5 separate regions of the Homo sapiens genome follow, and regions 2, 3, 4 and 5 are each linked to region 1. Evidence: fine-mapped expression QTL. A gene starts in region 1. Each other region holds a variant in brackets. All regions are shown on one strand. Distances are from middle to middle. Region 1 holds the start of ADGRE2 (adhesion G protein-coupled receptor E2). Region 2 overlaps ADGRE2 (adhesion G protein-coupled receptor E2). Region 3 overlaps ADGRE3 (adhesion G protein-coupled receptor E3). Region 4 overlaps ADGRE2 (adhesion G protein-coupled receptor E2). Region 5 overlaps OR7C1 (olfactory receptor family 7 subfamily C member 1).

Region 1 (5,178 bases):
TCCGCCTCAGAAAAAAAAAAAAAAAAATGATGGCGCTGGATCCCCCAGGCTCTAAGATGCCCTGGAACCGCATGCTTCCTCAGGGACACAGGTGCACACACACCACAACCGCCGCCAGCCCTGGCGGCCCATCCTGAAACCCAGTGGTGATATTTCACCCCGGGCGCCCCTCCCACAGGAAAACGCTGTGGCCGCCTGTTGGGGTGCATGTGGCGCTGCGGTTCCCAGCACTCAGGAAGTTCCCCTTTCCAAGGCATGTCCTGGGGGACCCTCCTCAGGTCACCAGGGGCTTTAGAGATGGGGACCTAGGGATCTCCTTGTTGTTCACCAGAGAGAGAGACAAAGAGGCAGAGGTAGAGAGAAAACGGAGATTAGGGAGATAGAGAGACTGAAAGAGAGACAGAAGGAGAAAGACAGAGAGAGAGAGAGAAAGAAGGGAGAAGCTGGGGGTACCCTGCAGTGGAGAAGTCCTGGCCTCTATTTTCCCCGCCCCCCGCCCATGTCTTTCTATGCGCTATATTAAGAGCAGTGGCTCTGGGGTCCTAGCACTCACTTTTTGCCCCTTTCCTTCCCCCGTGCCTCAGTTTCCCCTCTTATGGAGCAGATGCCAAACTGGCTCCAGTAGAAAGCTTGAGGATCCCTCCGGGCAGGGTAGCAGGCTCCGAGAGCACCCTGGAGTTCCTGCCGGGGTGTGGGGGTGCCCAAGCACCACCAGCCCCTCTCGCCGTGTGCCCGTGAGTGCCTGCTTGACCATGTGGCTTTCTCCATCGCCGGCCCCACAGACACCAGCGGCGCCTCCCGTTTCTCAGACGCATCCAAGGGGTCCCGCTGGAGCTTCCTCGCTACCACCCCCAGCGGGGCCCCAAAGTACTTACCGAGAAAGACGAGAAAGACGCGGCCTCCCATGGTTCCAGCTGAGCTGCCGGCAGGAGCAGCAGGGGAAAGAGTGAGTGGGACAGGGCTGTCCCGTCTCCGCAGGCTGGGCAGCTGTGCGGGCTGTCCCGAGGCCAGGACTTTATAAAGGAGGGGGGGCGGACAGCCGCTGGCCCAGGGCCCTCCCCGGAACTGGCGGTGCAGCTGGAAGCCAGCAGGAAAGCACAATAAAAACACAGAACCAGGGGCGCTGCACACACACACACACACACACACACACACACACACACACGTGTACTCGCTCAGCAAGAATGAAGTGCAACCTGCTTTAAAAATCCCTCTGCTGGAGTTTCCACCATGTGGCTCTGACCAACCCTCTGGCCTCTGTGTGTTCCAGGCTGGCTGCTGTGCAGGGGAAGGTGTGGCAGCCGGGCGGGGCGGTCTCGCCTGGGGCCACTTGGCTCTTCCCTGGGCAGGCACGCAGGGGCCTTGTCAGAAATAGCTCTGGGCTCCCACTTTGGTAGGGCTCACCCTGTGCCCAGAGCTTTGGCATGCCAGAGTTGGCAGAGCCTGCGTCCCAGCTGGCAGTATCTTCCCCTGCTGTTTTCCAGATGAGGAAACTGAGGCCAGGTACAGAGGCTCACGCCTGTGATCCCAGCACTCTGGGAGGGCGAGGCAGGAGGATCGCTTGAGCTCAGGAGTTTGAGACCAGCCTGGGCAACATGGCGAAGCTCGGTTTCTTTCTTTCTTTTTAAATTAATTAATTAATTAATTAATTAAATTTTTTAGACTTTAAGTTCTAGGGTACATGTGCACAACGAGCAGGTTTGATACATAGGCATACATGTGCCATGTTGGCTTGCTGCACCTATCAACTCGTCATTTACATTAGGTATTTCTCCTAATGCAATCCCTCCCCCAGGCCCCCACCCCCCGACAGGCCCCAGTGTGTGATGTTTCCCGCCCTGTGTCCAGGTGTTCTCATTGCTCAGTTCCCACCTATGAGTGAGAACATGTGGTGTTTGGTTTTCTGTTTCTGTGTTAGTTTGCTGAGAATGATGGTTTTCAGCTTCATCTGTGTCCCTGCAAAGGACATGAACTCATCCTTTTTTATAGCTGCATAGTATTCCCTGGTGTATATGTGCCACACTTTCTTAATCCAGTCTATCATTGATGGACATTTGGGTTGATTCCAGGTCTTTGCTATTGTGAATAGTACCGCAATAAACATACATGTGCATATGTCTTTATAGTAGCATGATTTATAATCCTTTGGGTATATACCCAGCAATGGGATCGCTGAGTCAAATGGTATTTCTAGTTCTGGATCCTTGAGAAATCACCACACTATCTTCCACAATGGTTGAACTAATTTACATTCCCACCAACAGTGTAAAAGCGTTCCTATTTCTCCACACCTGTGATCCCAGCACTCTGGGAGGCCGAGGCAGGAGGATCGCTTGAGCTCAGGAGTTTGAGACCAGCCTGGGCAACATGGCAAAGCTCTGTTTCTTCAAAAAGAAAAAAAATTACCTGGGCTTGGTGGCAGACGTCTGTGGTCCCAGCTGCTACTACTCAGGAGGCTGAGGCAGGAAGAATCACCCGAGCTGGGGAGTTTGAGGCTGCGGTGAGCTAAGATGGTGCCACTGCACTCCAGCTTGGGTGATAGAGTGAGACCCTGTGTCAAAAACAAAAAGAAAGAAAGAAAACTGAGGCATTACAGTGTCCACATAAAAGCCCAGGGAGGGAGAAGGGGCCCTCTTCCGATGCCAGGCAGGTGCCAAGAAGAGAAGCTTCACCGCACAGAGCAGACCCCCCGGATCTTTCTGGTCTTTCTAAGCCAGTTTCCTCCTGTGGGAAACTTATATTTCAGAGGCCCCTGGGCACTTCGTTAATCAACAGAGAATCATGTGATAGGAGGGTTCTTTCCTTTCTGGATAAATCATATGATTAGCTTGTCTCTTGAGGTACGTAATCATTTTTTAAAACGCTATATATATTTTTAAGAGATCTTACTCTGTCACCCAGGCTGGAGTGCAGGGTCACCATCACAGCTCACTGCAGCCTCAAACTTCAGGGCTCAAGGGATCCTCCTGCCTCAGCCTCCTGAGGAGCTGGGACTACAGCTGTGCACCATCACGTCTGGCTAGTTTTCTCCTTAAGTGTTTTTTTTTTTTGTAGAGACGAGATCTCGCTATCCTGCCAAGAAAATGCTATTATTTATGGAGCACTTAATTTGTACCAGGTCTGGTCCTAAGTGCTTTTTTTTTTTAATCTATATTAACTCATTTACTCCTTAAAACATCTGCAATGATGTTGTCATTCCCATTTGACAGAGGAGGAAACTGAGGCACAAGTGACTCACCCAGCTGAGACTCAGATCCACAGGCCGGCAGCCCAGCCCTGGAGTCCCTGCGATGAGCCCAGGGGAAAGTCTCCACTGGGCACTAACATGTCTTTAGCGCCTCCGTGACCCTGAGGCTTAGCAGGTGTCTGTATCCAGCCAGAATTCAAGGACTTGGTTTTGTGTTCCTCATATTTATATTTATTTTTAGGTTTCCCTACTATCTGGGGCAATGAGGAGGGTTTTTCAGTGAGGATGCCGAAATCAAGTCTCCTTGTTACATGAGTAAATTCAAGATGCAGAAGTGATGAATGCTAAGGAAAATATAGTTCAGTTGTTCAAAGGGGGAGATTGCAGCGATGGAGAAAAAAGTCACTAATGACTGAAGTCAGAGAACTATTGTCCTGGGAATAATCAAACATCCACAGTCCTAGAATTTACCCCTTCCTGTCCCGGGCTCCTGTGGGGGTGGCCTGGGCTGTGGGGGAGGGGAGTGAACACCAGCAGAAGCTGGAAGGAGAGAGGGCCAGACCAGGTCTGGAGGGATTTTGCCTTTTTTTTCTCAGAAAGCCAGAAACTCCAGCTAGAACCCCAGGGCTCAACGTCCCTTCTCTGCAGATCAGACGGGCAGGTCAGACAGCTGGCGTCTGCAGAATCTCAGGGAGGTAGTGGCACTTCCTGATGCCAGGGATTGTCCCTACACCCCTTCATGGTGATCATCGACTCTTCTTAATTTAATTTTATTTTACTGTATTTTAGAGACAGACTCTGGTGTTGCCCAGGTTGGAGTACAGTGGCGCCATCTCGACTCACTGCAACCTCCGCCTCCCGGGTTCAAGCGATTCTCCTGCCTCAGCCTCCAGAGTAGCTCGGACTACAGGTGCCCACCACCACACCTGGCTAATTTTTGTATTTTTATTTTATTTTATTTATTTGTTCATTCATTTATTTATTTTGAGACAGAGTCTCGCTCTGTCACCCAGGCTGGAGTGTGGTGATGTGATCTCAGCTCACAGCAACCTCTGCCTCCTGGGTTCAAGAGATTCTCCTGCCTCAGCCTCCCAAGTATCTGGAATTACAGGTGCAAGCCACCACGCCTGGCTAATTTTTGTATTTCTAGCAGAGATGGAGTTTCGCTATGTTGGTCAGGCTGGTCTCGAACTTCTGGCCTCAAGTGATCTGCCTGCCTTGGCATCCCAAAAGTGCTGGGATTACAGGCGTGAACCACAATGCCCGGCCTGAAACATTCTTTTTAAATTTTTATTTTATTATTATTATTATTATTTATTATTACTTTTTTCTGAGACGAAGTCTTGCTCTGTCACCCAAGCCGGAGTGCAGTGGTGCTATCTCGTCTCACTGCAATCTCTGCCTCCCGGGTTCAAGCAATTCTCCTGCCTCAGCCTCCCGAGTAGCTGGGATTATAGGCACCTGCCATCGCATCTAGATAATTTTTGTATTTTTAGTGGAGACAGGGTTTCACCATGTTGGCCAGGCTGGTCTCGAACTCCTGTCCTCAAATGATCCACGCGCCTCAGCCTCCCAAAGCGTTGGGATTACAGGCGTGAGTCACCATTCCTGGCGGCTTTCTTGAGTCTCTCCAATACTTCTCACCATCTCCCTTCTTCCCTAGCAACCATCTGCCCTCGAGCCGCATTAGGCTGTCAGCCCCCTGAGTGACTTTTGTCTTTTTCTCTGCAGAGCACCAGCACAGAGCCTGTGCTGAGTGGGGCCCTATATGGTAAACCATGCAAATTAGTAGTACTCCTGCCACTCCACTCCGCTGCCGCCCAGCTAAAGGAAGCCTCCTTCAGCCTCGCTGATCTGGTCCCTGCCGGGGTGTCTGCCTATGTTTCTCCGCCTTCTCTTTGTCCAGAAGTCTCAGTCCTGCTGACCTATTTTGCAGCTTCTGGACAACCTCTGCAATGATGGGGGGTGCGAACATGGTCCTCATTTGTCAA
Region 2 (5,000 bases), 21 kb before region 1:
AGATAATGCATATATTTTTTTAAAAGGCTGCTACGTCTCTGGGGATTTGTTACACGGCAATAAATGCAGAGTGCATCCCCTCCTAAGGGTCTCACCTGCACATCGTAGTGGGCCATGAGGACGGCAAAGCTGCTCAGGTGGGTGCAACGGCAGATGGTGCTGGTGTCTCTGGTGCCTATTGTGCTGCAGCCTGTGGTGGCCCAGTGACCACATCCATTCTGGCCATGCTCCCAGAAGACACAGAGCACCTTCTGTCTCGGGATCACTGACTGCAGGAACAGAACACAGGTGTGGGCTGGGCATGGTGGCTCACGCCTGTAATCCCAGCACTTTGGGAGGCTGAAGCAGGTGGATCACTTGAGGTCAGGAGTTTGAGACCAGCCTGGCCAACATGGTGAAACCCCATCTCTACTAAAAAAAAAAAAAAAAAAAAAAAATACAAAAATTAGCTGGGCGTGGTAGCACACACCTGTAGTCCCAGCTATTAGGGAGGCTGAGGCAGGAGAATCGCTCGAACCTGGGAGGCGGAGACTGCAGTGAGCTGAGATCGTGCCACTGCACTCCAGCCTGGCTGACACAGCGAGACTCTGTCTCAATAAAAAAAAGAACACAGGTGTGAGCTGGTGGGTCGGATGCTCAGAAATGCTTACCCAAAGCCGGCTTGGGAAGGACTGACTTTCCTGGGGAGATAATGTACCCATAACAGAGACCCCTGAGCCCCAGGGCTGAGCTGAGCAGCAAGGCTATGCCCGGACTCAGACTATTCACCCACCAACCAACTCCACCAGCACTCACACGGTGGGAGAAGGTGAAGGTAACTGGGGAGCTGAGGTTTTGGGTGTCGTTGTTGCTCAGAAAGGCAGAGATCACATCTGAGAGCAGGATGGGGGAGCCGTCCTGCAGCAAGCCCTGGTGTGTCTCATGCAGAAGCATCTGCTTCTCAGGTTCCAGGACCAGAGGGGCCTCAGCCAGCAACTTGCCCATCCCTGGAATGGAGACAAGGCCCACCACAGAAGGGCCTGCAGGGCGAGGCCAAGGTTGAATCTTGGAGTAGGTTGAATCTCTGGGTCCACACCAGAGTTCCTCTGCCCTGCACAGAACTTTCTACTCAGATGGGCTACCTTCCTTTGGCTTCACCCCTCCCACACTTTCCTTCAATCTTTAGTTCTATGTGTATCACATCCTGCAGGACAAGGCCACGGTTAATATCTCAGGGTCCCCAACAAGGTCCGTTCCTCCTCAGCTGGACTCTCCTCTTACAGCCCCACTCCAAACATCCCACACTTCCCTTTAATCTTTAAATTTCTTATTTTTCACATTCTTGGGCATCTTTTCCCACCATGAAGCTTCACTGACCACCTCCCCATCTCAGCCATTACCTGGGTCACCAGATTTCTGTGCCTGATTCCAGTCGAGCTGCATCACTGCCTGATTCTGTCTCAAGGTGACACTCCTGTCTACTTGCTTCTGCACCTCCAGGGACAATTCTATGAGTTGTGGGAATTACATAAGGGGGGTTAGGTTAGGAATCGTGCCTGCAGTGGTTGATATACTATGACTTAATATATATACTATATACATATATAGTCTGAAGTTACAAAATATCGGAAGAGAATAGTGTGAGCAACTGTATATCTACAAAGTAGGTAACCTAGATGAAATGGACACATTCCTAGTGACACACAAACCACTGAAATCAACTCAAGAAGAAATAGAAGATCTGAACAGACCTATAACAGATTAAATCAGTAATCAAAACCTCTCAAAACTAACAGCCCAGACCAGATGACTTCACTGGTGAGTTCTACCAATAGCTTAAGAAAGAATGAACATGAATCTTTTACCTTTTTAAAAATATGGAAGAGGAGGAAACACTATTTAAGTAATTTTATGAGTCTAATATTGCTCTGATAACAAAACCAGATGAAGACATCACAAGAAAATAAAATTATAGACCAATATTTCTTATGGACATAGATGCAAAAATTTTCAGCAAAAATGTTAGGAATACATTTTACGAAGGAGACTCAAGACTTATAGGAAAGTTTTTTGAGTATTTTTTTTTTTTTGAGACAAATTCTCACCTGTTGGTCAGGCTAGAGTGCAGTGGCATGATCATAGCTCACTGCAGTCTCCTGGGCTCAACCAATCCTTCCACCTCAGCCTCCCAAGTAGCTGGCACTACAGGTGCTCACTACCACAGCCAGCTAATTTTTAAATTTTTTGTGGAGATCATGTTTCAGTATATTTCCAAGGCTGGGCTTGAACTCCTGGGCTCAAGCAATTCTCCCACCTTGGTGGCCTCTGACAATATTGGGCGTGAGCCACTGCTTCTGGCCTACAAAAGTGTTTGAAAGAAATAAAAGGCCCTCTCTAAATGGAAAGACAGCCTATGTTCATGGATTGGAAGACTTTCTATTGTTAAGATAACAATACTCCCCCAAAGTGGTCTAGAGACTCAATGCAATCCCTATCAATATTTTAGCCTATTATTACTTTGCAGAATAAGAAAAGTTCATCTTAAAATTCATATGGTGTTGTAAGGAATCCAAATACCCAAAAACAATCTTGAAGAAGAACAAGAAGGTTGGAGAATTCACACT[A/T]CCTGATTCCAAAACTTACTACAAACTGACAGTAATACTGGCATAAGGACACAACAGAATAGAATTGAGAGTCCAGGAATAAACCCATCCATCTTATGGTCAGTTGATTCTCAACAAGGGGTGCCAAGACTATACAATGGGGGAAAGAATAATCTCTTCAACAAATAGTGCTGGGATTACTGGATAGTAACATGAAAATAAGGAAGTTTTAACCCTACCCTCACACAACAAACAAAAATTAACTCAAAATAAGCCAGTGACCTAAGCTTAGAAGCTAAAACTAGAACACTTAGGAGGAAACAGGGGTAAATCTTCCTGGTCTTGGATGCGGTAATGAATTCTTTTTTTATTTTTATTTTTGGGACAGAGTCTTGCTCTGTCATCCAGGCTGGAGTGTAGTGGCACAATCTCAGCTCACTGCAACCTCCGTGTCCCAGGTTCAAGCAATTCTCCTGCCTCAGCCTCCTGAGTAGCTAGGATTACAGTCATGTGCCAACACATCTGGTTAATTATTTTTATTTTTATTTTTAGTAAGGACAGGGTTTCGCCTTGTTGGCCAGGCTGGTCTCAAACTCCTGACCTCAGGTGATCCGCCCACATTGGCCTTCCAAAGTGCTGGGATTACAGGCGTGAGCCACCACCCCCTGTCAATGAATTCTTAAATATGACACCAATTGCACATGCAACAAAAGAAAAATTAGATAAAATAAATGTCTTCAAGATTTAAAACTTCTATTCATTAAAGTGAAAAGACAAGAAAATGAAAAGACAATCTACAGAACGGGAGAAAATATTTTGCAAATCATTCATCTCAGATGATCTACTATCAGAATGTTTAAAGAATGCTTACAACTGGACAACCAAAAGACAAACAGCACAATTAAAAATAGGCAAAGGATTTGAATAGACATTTCTCCAAAAATGACATGCAAATGGTGAGCAAACACATGAAAAGATGTTAAACATCATTAGTTATCAGGGAAGGGCAAATCAAAACCACAATGAGGTATCATCTCACTAGTGAAGTGGTGTAAATACCCAAGTTTCACTGTTTCACACCAGGGAAATTGAGGATGTGGACACATAAGAAGTTAGTTTAAGAGTGGAGATTTAATAGGCGAAAGAAAAAAAGAATAGCTCTGGCTGGGCGCAGTGGCTCACGCCTGTAATCCCAGCACTTTGGGAGGCTGAGGCGGGAGGATCACGAGGTCAGGAGATCGAGACCAACCTGGATAACACGGTGAAACCCCGTCTCTACTAAAAATACAAAAAAATTAGCTGGGCATGGTGGTGGGCGCCTGTAGTCCCAGCTACTCCGGAGGCTGAGGCAGGAGAATGGCGTGACCCCGGGAGGCGGAGCTTGCAGTGAGCCGAGATCGCGCCCCTGCACTGCAGTCTGCGGGACACAGCACGACTCCGTCTCAAAAAAAAAAAAAGGAAAAAGAGAATAACTCCCTCTCCTGCAGAGAGACAGGGGCTCCCAAGTGGGTCTTCCGGTTGCGTGGTGAAATGCACGAAGTTTTATAGATGAGCTTGGGTAGGCGGTGTCCGATTTACATAAGGCTTAAAGATTGGTCTGAACAGGTGAGCCATTTACATACAGCATGAAGAAACTGGCTGCCCCAGCCTAATCTTTTATTATGCAAATGGATTCTCTACCTGGCTGGCTCCACGTTGCCTGCTTCTGTACTGTACACGTGGTTGACAAAGATAAAGGAAGAGGGAGCCCCCACGTTGAACATGTCGGGCCCCCAGGTAACCTTTTCCTATTGGCACAGCTGCCGGCATTCACCCGTGCAAGCTTCCAGCTTGCTTTTCTATGTCTGCAGCTCGAATTTTCAGGCTGCTCGTTATTAGAAAAGAAATGATTTGGGGGCTGGTTTTTATTAAAAGGGAAACCTTACTGAGGACTCTCTGACCCTTGCTAACTGCCTAAATAATTTCTTTTTCACTCCTGTATCACTGGGATGAAGAGAGGTGAGTTAACAGGTAGAGACATACAGTTAGACAAAAAGTATAAGTTATACATATATATATATATATTTTTTTTTTTTAGACGGAGTCTCACTCTGTCACCCAGGCTGGAGTGCAGTGGCACGATCTCAGCTCACTGCAGCCTCTGCCTCCTGGGTTCCAGCGAATCTCCTGCCTCAGCTTCCCAGGTAGCTGGGATTACAGGCACGTGTCACTAAGCCCAGCTAATTTTTGTATTTTTAATAGCCAGGGTTTCACCATATTGGCCAGGCTGGGCTCAAACTCCTGATGTCAGGTGATCTGCCTGCCTTGACCTCCCAAAGTGCTAGGATTACGGGTGTGAGCCACCAAGCCAGCCACCTCTCCGCTTATTAAGCAGATTTTTTTTTTTTTTTTTTTTTGAGACGGAGTCTCACTCTGTCA
Region 3 (5,000 bases), 120 kb before region 1:
CAATCTTGGCTCACTGCAATCTCAATGTCCTGGGCTCAAGCAATCCTCCACCTCAGTCCCCCAAGTAGCTGGGACTGTAGGTGTGTACCACCAGACCTGGCTAAATTTTTTTTTTTTGTATTTTTTGTAGAGATGGGGTTTCGCCATGTTGGCCAGGCTGATCTCAAATTCCTGACCTCAGGCAATCCACCCGCCTTGGCCTCCTAAAATGCAAGGATTACAGGCGCGAGCCACCGTGCCTGGCCTCCAAATTCTTTTATTCCATCTTGACTGGAAATTAGAACTGAAATGTCCGAGAAAACAGAAAATTAGAAGCCTCTTGTGTTTAAAGTCAGCCTGGCTGGGAATGATAACCGAAACAGAAGCATCAGTGTCTGGTCATCAGCTGTTAATGAAGACTTTTGTGTTGGTTTCTGTGCTTAGTGAGGACATCTCTGCTTTAGAAATTTGAGGAAGGGTGCACCTGTAGTCCCAGCTGCTTGGGAGGCTGAGGCAGGAGGATCATATGAGCCTAGGCATTCGAGACCAGCCTGGCCAACATGGCAAAACCCTGTCTCTACTAAAAATACAAAAATTAGCTGGGCATGTTGGCGGGTGCCTGTAATCCCAGCTACTCGGGAGGCTGAGGCAGGAGAATCTCTTGAACCTAGGAGGCAAAGGTTGCAGTGAGCTGAAATGACACCACTGCACTCCAGCCTGGGAGACAGAGCGAGACTCTGCCTCTGAAAAAAAAAAAAAAAAAAAAAAAAAAGACAAGGAAAGTCTAGCAAATGTTTACATATCTTTTATCATCATGCTGAGGTTAAATCTGTACTTATTCTAAATTTTGGTTTTCAGCTCAGTCTATTTGCTTAAAAGCACAAACAGCTTTGTTTTAATACTGAACATTTTATCTTAAGAGTTCAAGAACTTTGACTTACAACCCTGAGTCTAGAATATGTTTGTTATAGGAAACCGTATTTATTGTAGAAAACTGCCCTTTTGAACCAAAGCTGCACACTTTATCATTGGGTGGGGGTGTCTGTTGCTTAGAGCTGCCAGCCTTGGTAATAACGAACCCCAAATGGGCTCAGTCTTTATAAAAGGACGGTGCAGACCTCTTAACATTAGGAAAACAACCAAAGGCATTTTCCTTTTTTGTAAAATAAGACAAGTTTAAGAGATTAACATCAGAACCCAGGTAGAATCACAGTCTGCTTCTACACTGTCAATAGAGGTGCGCATTGCTTAGTAAAAGACAGATTTATGGCTGAGTGCTGTGGCTTATGCCTATAATCCCAGCACTTTGGGAGGCCAAGGCAGAAGGATCGCTTGAGACCAGGAGTTTGAGATCAGCCTGGGCGACATAGTGAGAACCCCATCTCTACAAAAAATGAATAAATTAGCCAGGTATGGTGGCTCATACCTATAATCTCAGCCACTCAGGAGGCTGAGGTGGGAGGATTGAGCCTGGAAGTTCAAGGCTGCAGTGTGCAATGATTGTGCCACTGTACTCCAGCCTGGGTGACAGAGTGAGACCCCATCTCTTAAAAAAAAAAAAAGTTTCTCTCTTATTATCCCTACGGTAGTCAATACCTCATGGGTGGTCTACCAAGTCTCATCTCTTTTCTCATATAGACTTTCCCATCCATGTTTTCCATGGGAGTGGTCATGTTTACATGACACAGTATCTCTCCCTGGACACGGATCCACGGGTGCACATGGGGCTCAAACTGGGCCAATGTATTCATTCCCAAAGAATTTGCAATGGGGTCTCAGAGAGAGAGTCAACTGATCTCTCTTTGGTTGGTTGGGGCAAAAAAAATGGTAAGATCTGGAGCGGGTTGGTGGTCATATTTCCTTTTTTTTTTTTTTTTTTTTTTGAGACAGAGTTTCACTCTGTCACCCAGGCTGGGGTGCAGTGGCGGGATCTTGTCTCACTGCCACCTCTGCTTCCCAGGATCAAGCAATTCTTGTGCTTCACCCTCCTGAGAAGCTGGGATTACAGGCACCCGCCACCACACCCAGCTAATTTTTGTATTTTTAGTAGAAATGGGGTTTCGCCATGTTGGCCATGCTGGTCTTGAACTCCCGGTCTCGAGTGATCTACCCGCCTTGGCCTCCCAAAGTATTGGGATTACAGGC[G/A]TGAGCCACCCCTCCCAGCCGGTGGTCATATTTTCTGTCCTGTGGTCTAGGAAGCAGAGAAAGCCAGCCTGCAGTGAAAGAGAAGGAAGGAGCAGATCCAAAGATGATTAGAGACAGGGACTAGGAGATGCACCCTGGGGGTGTTGAGTTCCCAGTTTTAGTTAATTCCAGAAGCCCAGCTGCATTCCTGTCCTTGCAGGGCATGGCTACGCATCGTTTTCATAAACCCATTTTTTGGCCTGTTAGCCTGAGTGAGTTTCTCTTCCTTGCAATTCAAAGAATGTGGTCTCAATCACCACCTTGTCACATCCTCCATCTCCAAACTATAGTTCCCTTTCTCACCCCCTTATTTCCCTCAACTTGAACTTCCTTCTTTCCTTGTAGTTCCCTGCAGAAAATAAAAACCACATCCTGGTCCCACAACAAATACGTCTTTTCTGATGTTAGATTCAATAAAAAATGAGGAAGGACTGCCGCCTGTAAAAAGTCCCAGCACTTTGGGAGGATGAGGAGCGTGGATCAAGAAAAATTAGCTGGGCGTCGTGGTGCACGTCTGTAATCTCAGCTACTTGGGAGGCTGAGACAGGAGAATCGCTTGAGCCCGGGAGGCGGAGGTTTCAGCCACTGCACTCCAGCCTGGGCTACAGAGCGAGACTCTGTCTCAAAACAAAACAAAACAAAACAAACAAACAAAAAAACAACAACAGAGGAAGGAAGGCAGGAGGACAAAAATGTTCTTACCCTGACAGGTGTTCTCATTGGAATTACTGAATTGTTCATTCCCAGAATGCAGTCTATATCCTGGGACACATTGACAGTAGAAACTTCCTTCGACATTGTAACACACAGCGTTAAATCCACAATATACACTATAGGGTGGTGTACATTCATTAATGTCTGGAACACAAAGAAGCAATTGGGTCATTCATTCAGCAAAGATTTATTGAGCAGCTACTATGTGTCAGGAGTTGTGCTCTTTCCCCCATGGTCTGTCCTGGCTTTCCGAGACAAATCAGTTTAGGTAATGGTTATCTTGGTTTTTCGCTTTCTTCATTGACTTTGGTGGGGTTCTCCAGGAAGCAGACAATGAGACGAGAATATAAGTACTTTATTTGGGAGGGGATCCCAGGAAACACTGAGAGGGCAGTCGCGAAATGAAACAAGAAACTATCTTTTCTTTTTGAGACGGAGTCTTGCTCTGTCATCCATGCTGGAGTGCAATGGCAGGATCTGGGTTCACTGCAACTTCTGCCTCCTGAGTTCAAGCGATTCTCCTGCCTCAGCCTCCCGAGTAACTGGGATTGCAGGCATGCACCACCACGCCCGGCTGATTTTTGTATTTTTAGTAGACACGGGGTTTCACTATGTTGGCCAGGCTGGTCTCAAACTCCTGACCTCAGGTGATCCACCTGCCTTGGCTTCCCAAAGAACTGGGATTACAGGCGCGAGCCACCATGCCTGGCTGAAACAAGAAACTATCTTAAATGAACGGCCAAGTTTCCAAAACAGCCCCCATTTTGCCTCCCTTTTGCTCCTGCTTCTGGATAACTTGCAAATTATCCCTGGCCAGGTGCAGGGTTCACGCCTGTAATCCCAGCACTTTGGGAGGCCGAGGCGGGAGGATTGCTTGAGCTCAGGAGTTTGAGACCAGCCGGGACAATATAGTAACAATCCATCTCTACAAAAAAAAAAAAAAAAAAAAAAAAATTAGCTGGGCATGGTGGCACGCCTGTAGTTGCAGCCACTTGAGAGGCTTGATCCCAGGAGTTGGAGGCTGCAGTGAGTGTTTTTATTTATTTTGATCAGAGTCTCGATCTGTTGCCCAGGCTGGAGTGCAGTGGTGCAATCTCGGCTCACTGCAACCTCTGCCTCCCAGGTTCAAGCTATTCTCATGCCTCAGCCTCTTGAGTAGCTGAGATTATAAGCGCCCCACACCATGCCCGGCAAATTTTTGTATTTTTAGTAGAGATGGGGTTTTGTCATGTTGGCCAGACTGGTCTCGAACTCCTGACCTCAAGTGATCTGCCCACCTAGGCCTCCCCAAGTGCTGGGATTACAGGCTTGAGCAACTGTGTCCAGCTTGCGGTGAGCTTTGATCATGCCACAGCAGTCCAGCCTGGGCAACAGAGCAAGACCCTGTCTCTAATAATAATGATAATAAAATAATAATAATAAAAAATAATAATACTTCTTTACCGTTACATGTCTCCAAGGGGAATGTGAATAGTTTCTGCCCAGATCCAGAAGTATATCCATGGTTGCAGGTGCAGTGAGTGTTATTGACACAGGAAGCATTTGGGGGGCACTTAGCACAGGAAGCTGCAGGGAGAAGAGAGGCAGGTTAAATGGACTGGGGTCACAAACTCTCCTGTTATAATTAGGCCCTGCCTCTTGATCACCTGAGGTCAGGAGTTCAAGAGCAGCCTGGCCAACATACTGAAACCCCATTTCTACTAAAAATACCAAAAATAGCCAGGCGTGGTGGTGCATGCCTATAATCCTAGCTACTCAGGAGGCTGAGGCAGGAGAATTGTTTGAACCTGTGAGGCGGAGATTGCAGTGAGCCGAGATTGTGCCACTGCACTCCAGCCTGGGTGACAGAGGGAGACTCCATTTCAAAACAAATATATATATTTGTTACATAGGTATACACGTGCCACGTTGGTTTGCTGCACCCATTTACATTAGGTATTTCTCCTAATGCTATCCCTCCCCCAGCCCCCCACTCCCCTGACATATTATATATGTAAATAATAATAATAATGAGGCCTCGCCTCTGGGCAGGGCCTCTCAAGGCTGAGGAAGCCTGTGCCTTTTCCTCTTGTGAGATCTAAGCACGTTAAAAAATTAGAGTGGCCAGGCGTGGTGGCTCACTC
Region 4 (5,000 bases), 47 kb before region 1:
GCCACTCATCTCAAACAACAGTTACTGCATCAAACTTTCTCTAGACCTGGGAATGAGTGACCTATGACGACAATGGAAAGGATGAAGAAAATGGCAAAAACTTCCATGTGAATCCCTTTACACCTTAGGTCATGTTGAATATAAAAATGCTCTAGCAATAAATGCTGGGTGCTGCAAAGTGAAACCAGCACTGAGGCAAAAGTTCTCTCAGCAAGGCAGTTTACTTCTGCAGAAGGGTGCCACCCACGTCAATCAAGATCCAAGAGCACAGAGAACAAAGGAGGCCAGGGGGGTTTTATATCCTTAACGCAATCCCTGCCTCCATGTCCTTCCCCCATGGGCTGGGGTCGGCACAATGTAAGCTGACCCGATTGGCTACTTGCGAATATTTCTCTCAAATAAAGAAGGGGGAAGGGGACGTGAGTTACAATGGTGGGACGTGCAGTTTTGAAGGGTATGTGTGTGGTTTTGAGGGGTGGAACGGGTGCAGAATGCGTGACCGAGGGAACAGATGTGAGTTATTGATTAGTGCCGACGGGAAGGCTGTTTATAGTAACTTGGGGCAGGGAGGCATAGAGACAAGGAAGTTAACAGACTGAACCTTTGAAGAGAAACCGAGAGATTCATTGCATCCTACAGTCAGGGTTTCTCAACTGTGACCTTATTGGCCAGATAATTCTTTGCTGTAGGAACTGCCCTATGCACTGAAGACTGTTGAGCAGCATCCCTGGACTATTAACTAAATGCCAGTAGCTTGGGTTGGGGAGATGTTGGTCAAACGATACACTTTTTTTTTTTGTTTTTTGAGACAGGGTCTAATTGTTGTTCAGGTTGGAGTGCAGTGGTGTGGTCACAGCTCACTGCAGCCTCAAACTACTGGGCTCAAGTGATCCTTCCTCCTCAGCCTCCAGAGTAGCTGGGACCACAGGCATGCACCACCATGCCTGGCTAATATTTTTTGTAGAGTTAGGGTTTCTCCATTTTGCCCAGGCTGGGCTTGAACTCTTGGGCTGAAGCGATCTGCCCACCCCAGCCTCCCAAAGTGCTGGGATTATGGTGTGAACCACTGCGCCCGGTGGGATACAAATTTCAGTTAGACAGGAGGAAGAAGTTCAGGAGATCAATTGTAGAGCATGGTGACTATAGTTAATAATAAATTATATTCTTAAAAAATGCTAAGAGAGTGGATGTAAATTGTTCTCACCACCAAATAATAACTATATGAGACGAGGCATACATTAATTTGCTAGATCTGGTTATTCCCCAATGTATACATCCATTAAACATCATGTTGCTCTTGATAAATACATCCAATTTTATCTGTCCAAAGAAAAATGCCAGTGGGATCCCTGCTAGTTGTATACTGGAAAGGGCAGAAATCCTCAGTTCTTTGTTGTCTTGAGAGAAAGATTTTGGCTAAAATGACTACTTTAGCCAAAAAGAGAATTTATTGAAGGAAAATAGAGAGAAGAGAGTTATTTTTATTTTTTATTTTTTGAGATGGAGTCTCGCTCTGTCACCCAGGCTGGAGTACAATGGCACAATCTCTGCTCACTGCAACCTCTGCCTCCCAGGTTCAAGTGATTCTTCTGCCTCGCAGCCTCCTGAGTAGCTGGGATTACAGGTGCCCGTGACCATGCCTGGTTAATTTTTGTATTTTTAGTAGAGATGGGGTTTCACCATGTTGGTCAGGCTGGTCTTGAACTCCTGACCTCAGGTGATCTGCCTGCCTCAGTCTCCCAAAGTGCTGGGATTACAGGTGTGAACCACCGTGCCCGGCCACTGTCTTCATTTTCAGAATGTTCCACTTAGTTCTTCCCAGCCCCTTCTCTCTTATCCCACCATCAGTCTGTCCTTCCTTCCTTCTTTCCTTCCTCCCTTCCTCTCTTTCTTTCACTTTTTTCTTTTTCTTTCTTTGCTTTTCCTTTCTCTATCTCCTTTCTTTTTCTTTGTCTTCCTCTCTCTTTCTGTATTTCTTGCACTGTAAATTTAAGAGTTTATTATTTAAAAAAAGTTAAAGCTAGCAAAGCAGTTTGTAATAACCCAAACTGGGAACAACCCAAATGTCTATCAACAGTGATTTTTTTAATTTCAACTTTTATTTTTAGATTCTGAGGGTACACGTTTAGGTTTGTTACAAGAGTATATTGCATGATGCTGAGGTTTGGGGTACAAATGAATCCAGTTAGTGAGCATAGTACCTGATAGGTAGTTTTTCAACCCTTGCCCTCCTCCCTCCCTCCTCCATCTAGTAGTCCCCATTGTCTAATGCTCCCATCTTTATGTTCACGTGTACCCAATATTTAGCTCTCTCTTACAGGTGAGAACATGCGGTATTTGGTTTTCTAAGTTAATTCACTTAGGATGATGGTTCCAGCTGCATTCATGTGGCTGCAAAACACACCACCATCAGTCTTTCAAACTCCCATCCCAGAATGCCCTAAATAGCAGATATTTAGGACATTCATAGGCAGTCCCTTACATGCTGCCCTGGTCTCAAGCACCGCCCCTCCTGCCCCCTCCCCCCAAGGATTGGCCCCTTTATTCATTCAATTTCTCTTCTCTTTCCCTCATTCTTCCTCCTTATAATTCCCTTTTCAGCCACCCAACTAATTTGGAAGAATTTCCACATCCAGTACTCTCTTGCATGTTCAGATCGCTAGAATCCAACCTCTGGATATCAAAGGATCACTACTGGGGCTTGAAGACTCCAAATCTGCAGATTCTGAAGCTTGCAGGTCAGTGGCCTTGGACTTTCAAACTTCCAGTTCCGTGACATCCGGGCTCCTTAACTTCCGGCTTCCGGGAGCTTAGTCACATACTTCTGGCTTCCGGATTGTAGGTTCCCCGCAAGGAGACTAAGGCCTGTGTGGGTCTTTGTTTCCCCAGCCGTGCAATGACTGTTAGATGCAGAAAGGGGGAAAACAGCCAGGGAAACTGCTCACAGTGGACCCCCACGGTGGAGAGCTGGAGGGAGAGGGTTCTTCAAACGTGTACCCTAGCTCCTTTGT[C/CT]TGCTGTCTTTGGTGGGCGTGGTCTTGTACTTAAAATCCAGCTGAGAAGCCAAACTCTACCTTAAAGCCGTATTTCATGTTTCAAACTGGATGATATAATTCTGGAGAAATGAGATGGGAAACTCTGCTGCCTACTTGCCCCTTAACTCTTGTTTATCTTTGGGTTTCTTACTACATACCAGAGCTTAATCTTTATTTTCTTACTTAATATTCAAACACAACCCATGAGCAAATTAACATTATTTCCATCATAAATAAAGAGAATGGACTTAATAAATTTAAAAAGTGAAGATATGGGGGCAAATGGATGCTGCCATCAGCTGACCCTAGAGTTTCCTCTGACCTTCCTTCCCCAACCTCGTCTGTGTTTCACTTCTGCCATGTCCTTAAAGGGGCTGTGTGTCCCCCAGACCACAGAGTCCATTGCACTGCACCTTTCCTTCCTCCTCATTTTCCATCTTACAAATCATCAATATTCCTGGATGTAGGATCATGTCTGTCTTATATGTTTTAGTTTCTCTCAATTTAGCATTATGCCTTGCACGAGAGTATAGGAATACCTCATTTCATTGCCCTTCACAGATATTGCATTTTTTACAAATTGAACGTTTATGGCAGCCCTGTGTCGAGCAAGTCTGTAGGTGCCATTTTCCCAACAGCATGTGCTCACTTTGTGTCCCTGCTTGAGCATTTTTTAGGAATAAACTATTTTTAAATTAAAGTATGTACATTAAAAAAAAGACATAATGCTATTGCACACATTACAGTATAGGGTAAGCATACTTTTATGCACACTGGGAAACCAAAAAATGTGTATGACTTGCTTTATTGCAATATTCACATTATTGTGGTGATCTGGAGTGGAGCCTGCAATATCTCTGAGGTGTGTCTGTATGTGCTCATCACATATGTGATGAATGGATGAATAAATTAGTGTAGAGTGAAGTGCTTCCATGAACCTGAACATCATGGTCTGGAAACTATGGGCAGTGAGTCAAATCTGACCCACCATCTGTTTCTGTACAGCTAAGAATAGTTTTTACATTTTTCAAATGGGTGAAAACAAATAAAAAGAAGAATGATATTTTGTGTCACATGACTGATATATGAAGTTCAAGCTCAGTGTCCATAAAGTTTTATTAAAACATAGCCATGATCATTCATTTATGATTGTCTATAGCTGTTTTCATATCACAATGGAAGTTCAAGTTCAGTGTCTGTAAAGTTTTATTAAAACATAGCCATGATCATTCATTTATGATTGTCTATAGCTGTTTTCATACCACAGTGGTAGAATTGAGTTGCTGTAAATACCTGGCTCACAAAGCCTAACATATACACTATCAGGCTCTTTAAGAAAACATTTGGCGACCCCTGCTCTAGGTAGACTCTATGGGGATATGGGCTCTACACTCATAGGGACCCACATGTTCCAAGCCTCCAGCTGTGTGTTCTGCTTCCTCAAGCAGCAGCTGACTCTGATATTCCCCATCTCACCTTAGCAGTCTATATCAAGCAAAGGGCACGCAGAATCCCATGCACCCATCATGTATGTAATAAAAGGCAGATATTATGTGGTCTCTTGAACCAGCCTTAGGCATGGAGGTTGAGGATCAGGAGTGACTTGAGGGTACTGACTGGCAGAGCAGGAGCCCCGTTATTTTGGACAAACACCGCCACTTTAAGTTTCAGCTTCATTTTTAGCCTTCTGGATTTAAGGAAATTACTTTTTTAAAAACTATAAGCAGCCAAAAAAAGCAGACAGTAAAATGCAGATAAAACAGCTCGGGCACAGAGGAAGGTGGAGGAAAAGTCTCTTGGGTAACTGCCAAACTTCACCCTCATACAATGGGCCCCAGTAAAACAGTGGGCCTTAATAAGCACATTCCTTTCCCTCCAGGTGCACTAAAATAGGGAAGCTAAAAGCAGACTTGGGGGGTATGCCTACAGCTGCAGAAAAATGTATAAAAGCAAACACACCACTCTCCC
Region 5 (5,210 bases), 22 kb after region 1:
GGTCCCAGCTATTCGGGAGGTTGAGGTGGGAGAATGGCATGAACTCGGGAGGCGGAGCTTGCAGGGAGCCGAGATTGCGCCACTGCACTCTAGCCTGGGTGAGAAAGCAAGACTCCATCTCAAAAAAAAAAAAAAAAAAAAAAATCTAACTTAGACGAGATGAAGTGAGAGCAATGTTTTAATTCAGGGGTCAGCAAACCTTCACAGTGAAAAAGGCCAGAGAGTAAATATTTTAGGTAGGTTTTCCAGGTCAGATGATTTCTGTGGCAGTTACTCATATCTGCTCTTGTAACATGAAAGCAGCCACAGATAATATGTACACAAGTGGGTGTGGCTATATGCCAATAAAATTTTATTTGCAAAAAAACAAAAAAAAACAGAAATGGGCAATTTGGGATGCTGGTCATTCTTTGCATTTAAAGCTAGTCTTGATGAAACTGTCTTTTATGGGTTGAATTTTCATTCTCTACAAATTCATATGTTGAAGTCCTTACCGCCAAAACTTCAGAATGTGGTCTCAGCTATTCTGACCTTTGTGAAGCCAATGTTTAGTTTTTTCATTGCAAATATCTGAGATGTTCACAATAGTTTGCATTGCTTATGTGATCATATGTTACATTAAAGCCCTCAGTTAGAAATAGGGCTGCGGTGAATGTAATTAGTTAAGCTAAGATGAGGTCCATAGTGGAGTAGAGTTGGCCTCTAATCTGAATGTTGTCCATATAAGAAGGGGAAATTTGGACACAGACACACCTAGAGGGAGAACATCACCTGAAGATGAAAGCAGAGATTGGGGTGATGCTTCTATATTGTCAAGGAAAGCCAAAGACTGCCAGCAACCGGCAGAAGCTAGGGGTAAGGCATGGAACAGAATCTTTCTCACAGCCTTCAAGTGGAACCAGCCCTGCCAACAACTTGATTTCAGGCGTCATAGTCTACAGAAATGTGAGACAATCAATTGCTATTGTTTAACTCACCCAATTTGTGGCACATTGTTACAGATGCCCTAGAAAGTTAATACACCGTCTTCAAAAATTGTCAAAATCAAGATGAAGCAGCATAGTTGTCTGGGGTAACACCTGAGGTTTGTTGTCCCACAGCCATGGAAGAAGACTGGGATGCGGACACACCAGAGTGAGGTTAAGAGCAGAAGTTTAATAGGTGAGAGAAAGAGAAGAGCTCTATGTGCAGAGAGGGGTCCCAGAGAAAATGGGTTGCCAGTTCCATGGTGAAATGCACAGGGTTTTATAAACTAGCTTGAGGAGGTGTTGTCTGATTTACATAGGCCATAAAAGATTGGTTGGATCAGGTGTGCCATTTGCATAGCATGTGGAGAAGCTGGCTGCCCCACCCTAATCTTTTATTATACAGATGGGTTCTTTACCTGGGCAGCCCCATGTTGCCTGTTCCTTTGCTGTACACATGGTTGACAAAGAAAAGGAAGAGGGAGCCTCCATGTTGAACATGACTGGTCCCCAGCTAGCCCTTTTCTATTGGCGCAGCAGCCGGCATTCACTCATGCAAGCTTCCAGCTTGCTTATCTATGTCTGCAGCTCGATTTTTCAGGCTGTTCTTTGTTAGAAAAGAAATGATTTTGAGGGCTGCTTTTTGTTAACGGGGAAACCTTGCCAAGGACTCTGTGGCCCTCCCTATCTACCTAAATAATTTCTTTCTAGCTCCTGTATCAAAGACACGATAAGATATGGTAATTCCAGAACTAAAAGAGAATACATTGATGTTTGGATACATTCAAGAACCACCAAAAGTGCCTCCCAATGGTCCAAGCCTTGCTACTTATGAAAGTCCTGCAGTGATGTCACCATTAAAAAATGTTGCCCTACTGAGGAGTCTCCCCAGGGCCCTCTTCATGTCCGTGTTCCTCAGGCTGTAGATGAAGGGGTTCAGCATGGGGGTGACCATGGTGTACATCACTGAGGCCACCAGACTTGTCCTAGAAGATGGTGTGGCTGCAGAACTGAGATAGACCCCAAAGCCCGTGCCATAGAACAAGGTGACCACTGAGAGGTGGGAACCACAGGTGGAAAACGCTTTGTGCTTTCTCCCAGCTGAGGAAATCCTCAGTATAGAGAAAACAATTTTATAGTAAGAGAAAAATATTCCAGTGAAGGAAATCACACCCAGGACGCCAGTTGCAAAGTATATCACCACGTTATTAATGAAGGTGTCAGAACAGGCGAGCTTCAGGACTTCAAGTAGATCACAAAAAAAGTGTGGAATTTCCATTTCGGTGCAGAAGGACAGCCTCAAAACAGTCAAGGTCTCGAGCAGGGAACCCATGACACTGATGCACCAGGACCCCAGAACCAGCAGTCCACAGAGCTGGGGGTTCATGATGACCGTATAGTGCAGGGGGTGACAGA[C/T]GGCCACGAAGCGGTCATAGGCCATCACGGTCAAGAGTAAATTGTCCAGGCATCCAAATGAAGTGAAAAAAAAAATCTGACTGAGACAGCCTGCATATGTTATGAATTTGTTCTGTGTCAGTATATTCAGTAACATCTTTGGGACAGTCGTGGAGGTAAAACAGAGGTCAGCAAAAGACAGGTTGGAGAGGAAGAAGTACATGGGGGTGTGGAGGTGGGAGTCTGAGCATATGGCCAGGATGATGAGCAGGTTCCCGGTGAAAGTGACTAGGTACATGGAGAGGAACAGCCCAAAGAGAATGAACTGAATCTCTGACGTTGCTGAAAATCCCAGGAGGAGAAATTCTTGGGCATGTGTTTGATTTCCTGTTTCCATGGGGATAAAATAACTGCCACAAGAGAGAAAAAAGCAACAGTCAATTATCAACACACTGGCAACATGGAAATTTGGTTACATTTAATTTTAAGTGAAGGAATCAATTAACAAAAGATTGCCTTTTTCTTGCTGTCTTTTTCTGGGGCATCTGAAATTCTTCCATCCTTTTCTTTGCTACCATCGGGATCTGGAAATGTAGTGTTAGTTCCATAATACTTGTACCCTCTATAGCCTGGCTTCTCAAAGTGTTGTCCATGAACCAACAAGATCAACAAGAGTTTCTTTAAATGCAGAATCCCTGGTCAGACCTACGGATTCAGAATCTACATTTTAACAATATCACCAAGGGTTTCACATGCATATTAGTGATATAGGAGTTAAGAAAAAATCACTTACGCAGATAGTAAGGTTATGGGAGTCCTCAGTGAGGCTTTTCTTTTTAATGAAAAGCAGCCCCAAATCATTTTCTAACAAAGAGCATCCTGTAAAGGCGAGCTGCAGACACAAACAAGCTGGGAGCTTGCACGGGTGAATGCCGGCAGGAACTAAGGACTAGAAGTTTTCAAGATGGTGGCTCCATCTTCCCTTCTCTTTGTCAGCCACGAGCAGACAAGATGGCGCAGATCAACTGGAAAGTCCAATTGCAAAGTAAGATTAGGGTGGGGCCACCAGCCTTCCCTGAGCACTATGAAAATGTCATACCTGATGGAACCAATCTGTGAGCCTGATGTAAATCAGACACTGCCTCCTCAAAGGGGACTATTAAACTCTGCGCATTCACCACCAGCCTGTCCTTTCCTCTCGGAGACCCTTTTCTCTATGGAGAGAGGTGTTTCTCTTTTTCTTCTCTTCTCCCTATTAAACCTCCGCCTCTGAACTCCTCGTGTGTGTCCGTGTTCTAAATTTTCCTAGTGCATGCCAATGAACCCCAGGGTATATACTCCAGACAATGTAGCAGCTTCATTAATATTTGAGTAGCAATGGTCTTGGACACTTACAGCTTCTAGTTCTCAGCTCTTCTCACCTTTGTTCTCCTCCATGTCTTCCCTCATTCCTCATTACCTAATATGCATGCAAAACAGGAGCTCAATAACTATGCTTTTTCCCCCTGCTATCTGCATGGAGTTGATACTTTTCACACATTGTTCTCAGCTATTCCAACCTTTGTTTATAAAGCCAATGTTTCATTTTTTCAGTGCAAACATCTGACATGTTTACAATAATTTGCATTGTTTATGTGATCATATGTTACATTATTTTACATGTTCGTTTTGTGAGTTTCTGTTCTGTCACTGGAAAGCCAGTCAGACATTATGCTTTAAAAAAATATTTTGGTAAAATATGGTTAAAAAATTTTATAGGTACTGCGTATTAAATTAATGCGATTTTAGGATATATTTTGAATTTTAGGTAGAGAACTCCAAAGTACCAATACTTCACAGAAACATAGATAATACCGTGGCAGCTGTCATAATCAACTTGATCAGTGTATTAGTCCATTCTCACGCTGCTGTAAAGAACTACCCGAGACTGGGTAATTTATGAAGAAAGTGGTTTAGTTGATTCACAGTTCTGTATGACTTGGGAGGCCTCAGGAAACTTACAATTATGGTGGAAGGGGAAGAGGAAGCAAGCATCCTTTTTCACATGGCAGCAGAGAGAGAGAGAGCGCGCGCTAAGGCGGTAGCACCATACTTTTAAACAACCAGATTTCATGAGAATCCCATCACAAGACAGCACTAGGGGAATGGTGCTAAACCATTAGAAACTGCCCCTGTGATCCAATCACCTCCCACCAGGCCCCTCCCTCAACCTTGGGGATTATAATTCGAGATGAGATTTGGGTGGGGACACAGAGCCAAACCATATCAGTCAGGAATCTGGAAAACAGTCAAAGGTTTAGAGCAACAAAGTGAATCCTTAATTTTTTAAAAAAGGTGACTGAAACCAGGTTGGACAGCTTTGTGGCAATTTATCATTTTCCCACCATCTTTCTTGGCTCAGTGGCATTGCTGAATATGACAACCCCACAGTCCCACCAGTTCCTGGTGCTGAAGATAGCGGAAATGTATGGCAATGTTCTGTTTTAATATGTCCAATGGGCCGGGCGTGGTGGCTCACGCCTGTAATCCCAGCACTTTGGGAGACTGAGGCGGGTGGATCACCTGAGGTCAGGAGTTCGAGACCAGCCTGGGCGACATGGTGAAACCCCGTCTCTACTAATAACACAAAAATGAGCTGGGCGTGGTGGCACACGCCTGTAATCCCAGCTACTTGGGAGGCTGAGGCAGGAGAATCGCTTGAACCTGGGAGGCGGAGGTTGCAGTGAGCCGAGATTGTACCACTGCACTCCAGCCTGGGTGACAAGAGTGAAACTCTGTCTCCAAATAATAATTAAAGAAAGATAATAATTCCAATGGACTGCTGAAGGAATAACACAAGGAGCTTACCTT

Evidence for each region. PIP is the estimated chance that this variant, and not a neighbour inherited with it, causes the effect.
Region 2: its variant is fine-mapped to the expression of ADGRE2 in whole blood (INTERVAL, PIP 0.90).
Region 3: its variant is fine-mapped to the expression of ADGRE2 in whole blood (INTERVAL, PIP above 0.99).
Region 4: its variant is fine-mapped to the expression of ADGRE2 in whole blood (TOPMed, PIP 0.98).
Region 5: its variant is fine-mapped to the expression of ADGRE2 in whole blood (TOPMed, PIP above 0.99).

The regions. Positions count from the first base shown.
Region 1 is chr19:14,775,851-14,781,028 of GRCh38, forward strand. ADGRE2 (adhesion G protein-coupled receptor E2) reads right to left here and starts at 2,710. Exons shown (of 21, transcript NM_013447.4): 1 at 2,407-2,710; 2 at 876-1,077. The coding sequence starts at 906. RefSeq lists an enhancer at 187-246.
Region 2 is chr19:14,754,859-14,759,858 of GRCh38, forward strand. It overlaps ADGRE2 (adhesion G protein-coupled receptor E2), which reads right to left. Exons shown (of 21, transcript NM_013447.4): 12 at 1,380-1,487; 13 at 796-1,019; 14 at 96-269. Among named protein-coding and RNA genes, the nearest start is that of ADGRE2, 21 kb to the right of the region's middle. RefSeq lists enhancers at 3,855-4,378, 4,379-4,904. The variant A/T (reference allele first, on the strand shown) is at 2,604.
Region 3 is chr19:14,659,098-14,664,097 of GRCh38, forward strand. It overlaps ADGRE3 (adhesion G protein-coupled receptor E3), which reads right to left. Exons shown (of 16, transcript NM_032571.5): 3 at 4,321-4,443; 4 at 2,866-3,021. Among named protein-coding and RNA genes, the nearest start is that of ADGRE3, 13 kb to the right of the region's middle. The variant G/A (reference allele first, on the strand shown) is at 2,125.
Region 4 is chr19:14,728,574-14,733,573 of GRCh38, forward strand. ADGRE2 (adhesion G protein-coupled receptor E2) reads right to left here. Exons shown (of 21, transcript NM_013447.4): 21 at 3,819-5,000. It also overlaps a transcript of ZNF333 not described here. Among named protein-coding and RNA genes, the nearest start is that of ZNF333, 41 kb to the left of the region's middle. RefSeq lists an enhancer at 1,993-3,192. The variant C/CT (reference allele first, on the strand shown) is at 3,012.
Region 5 is chr19:14,797,380-14,802,589 of GRCh38, forward strand. It overlaps OR7C1 (olfactory receptor family 7 subfamily C member 1), which reads right to left. Exons shown (of 5, transcript NM_001370485.4): 3 at 3,154-3,385; 4 at 2,877-3,065; 5 at 1,136-2,770. The coding sequence starts at 2,757. The coding sequence ends at 1,795. Among named protein-coding and RNA genes, the nearest start is that of ADGRE2, 21 kb to the left of the region's middle. RefSeq lists an enhancer at 2,684-3,883. The variant C/T (reference allele first, on the strand shown) is at 2,382.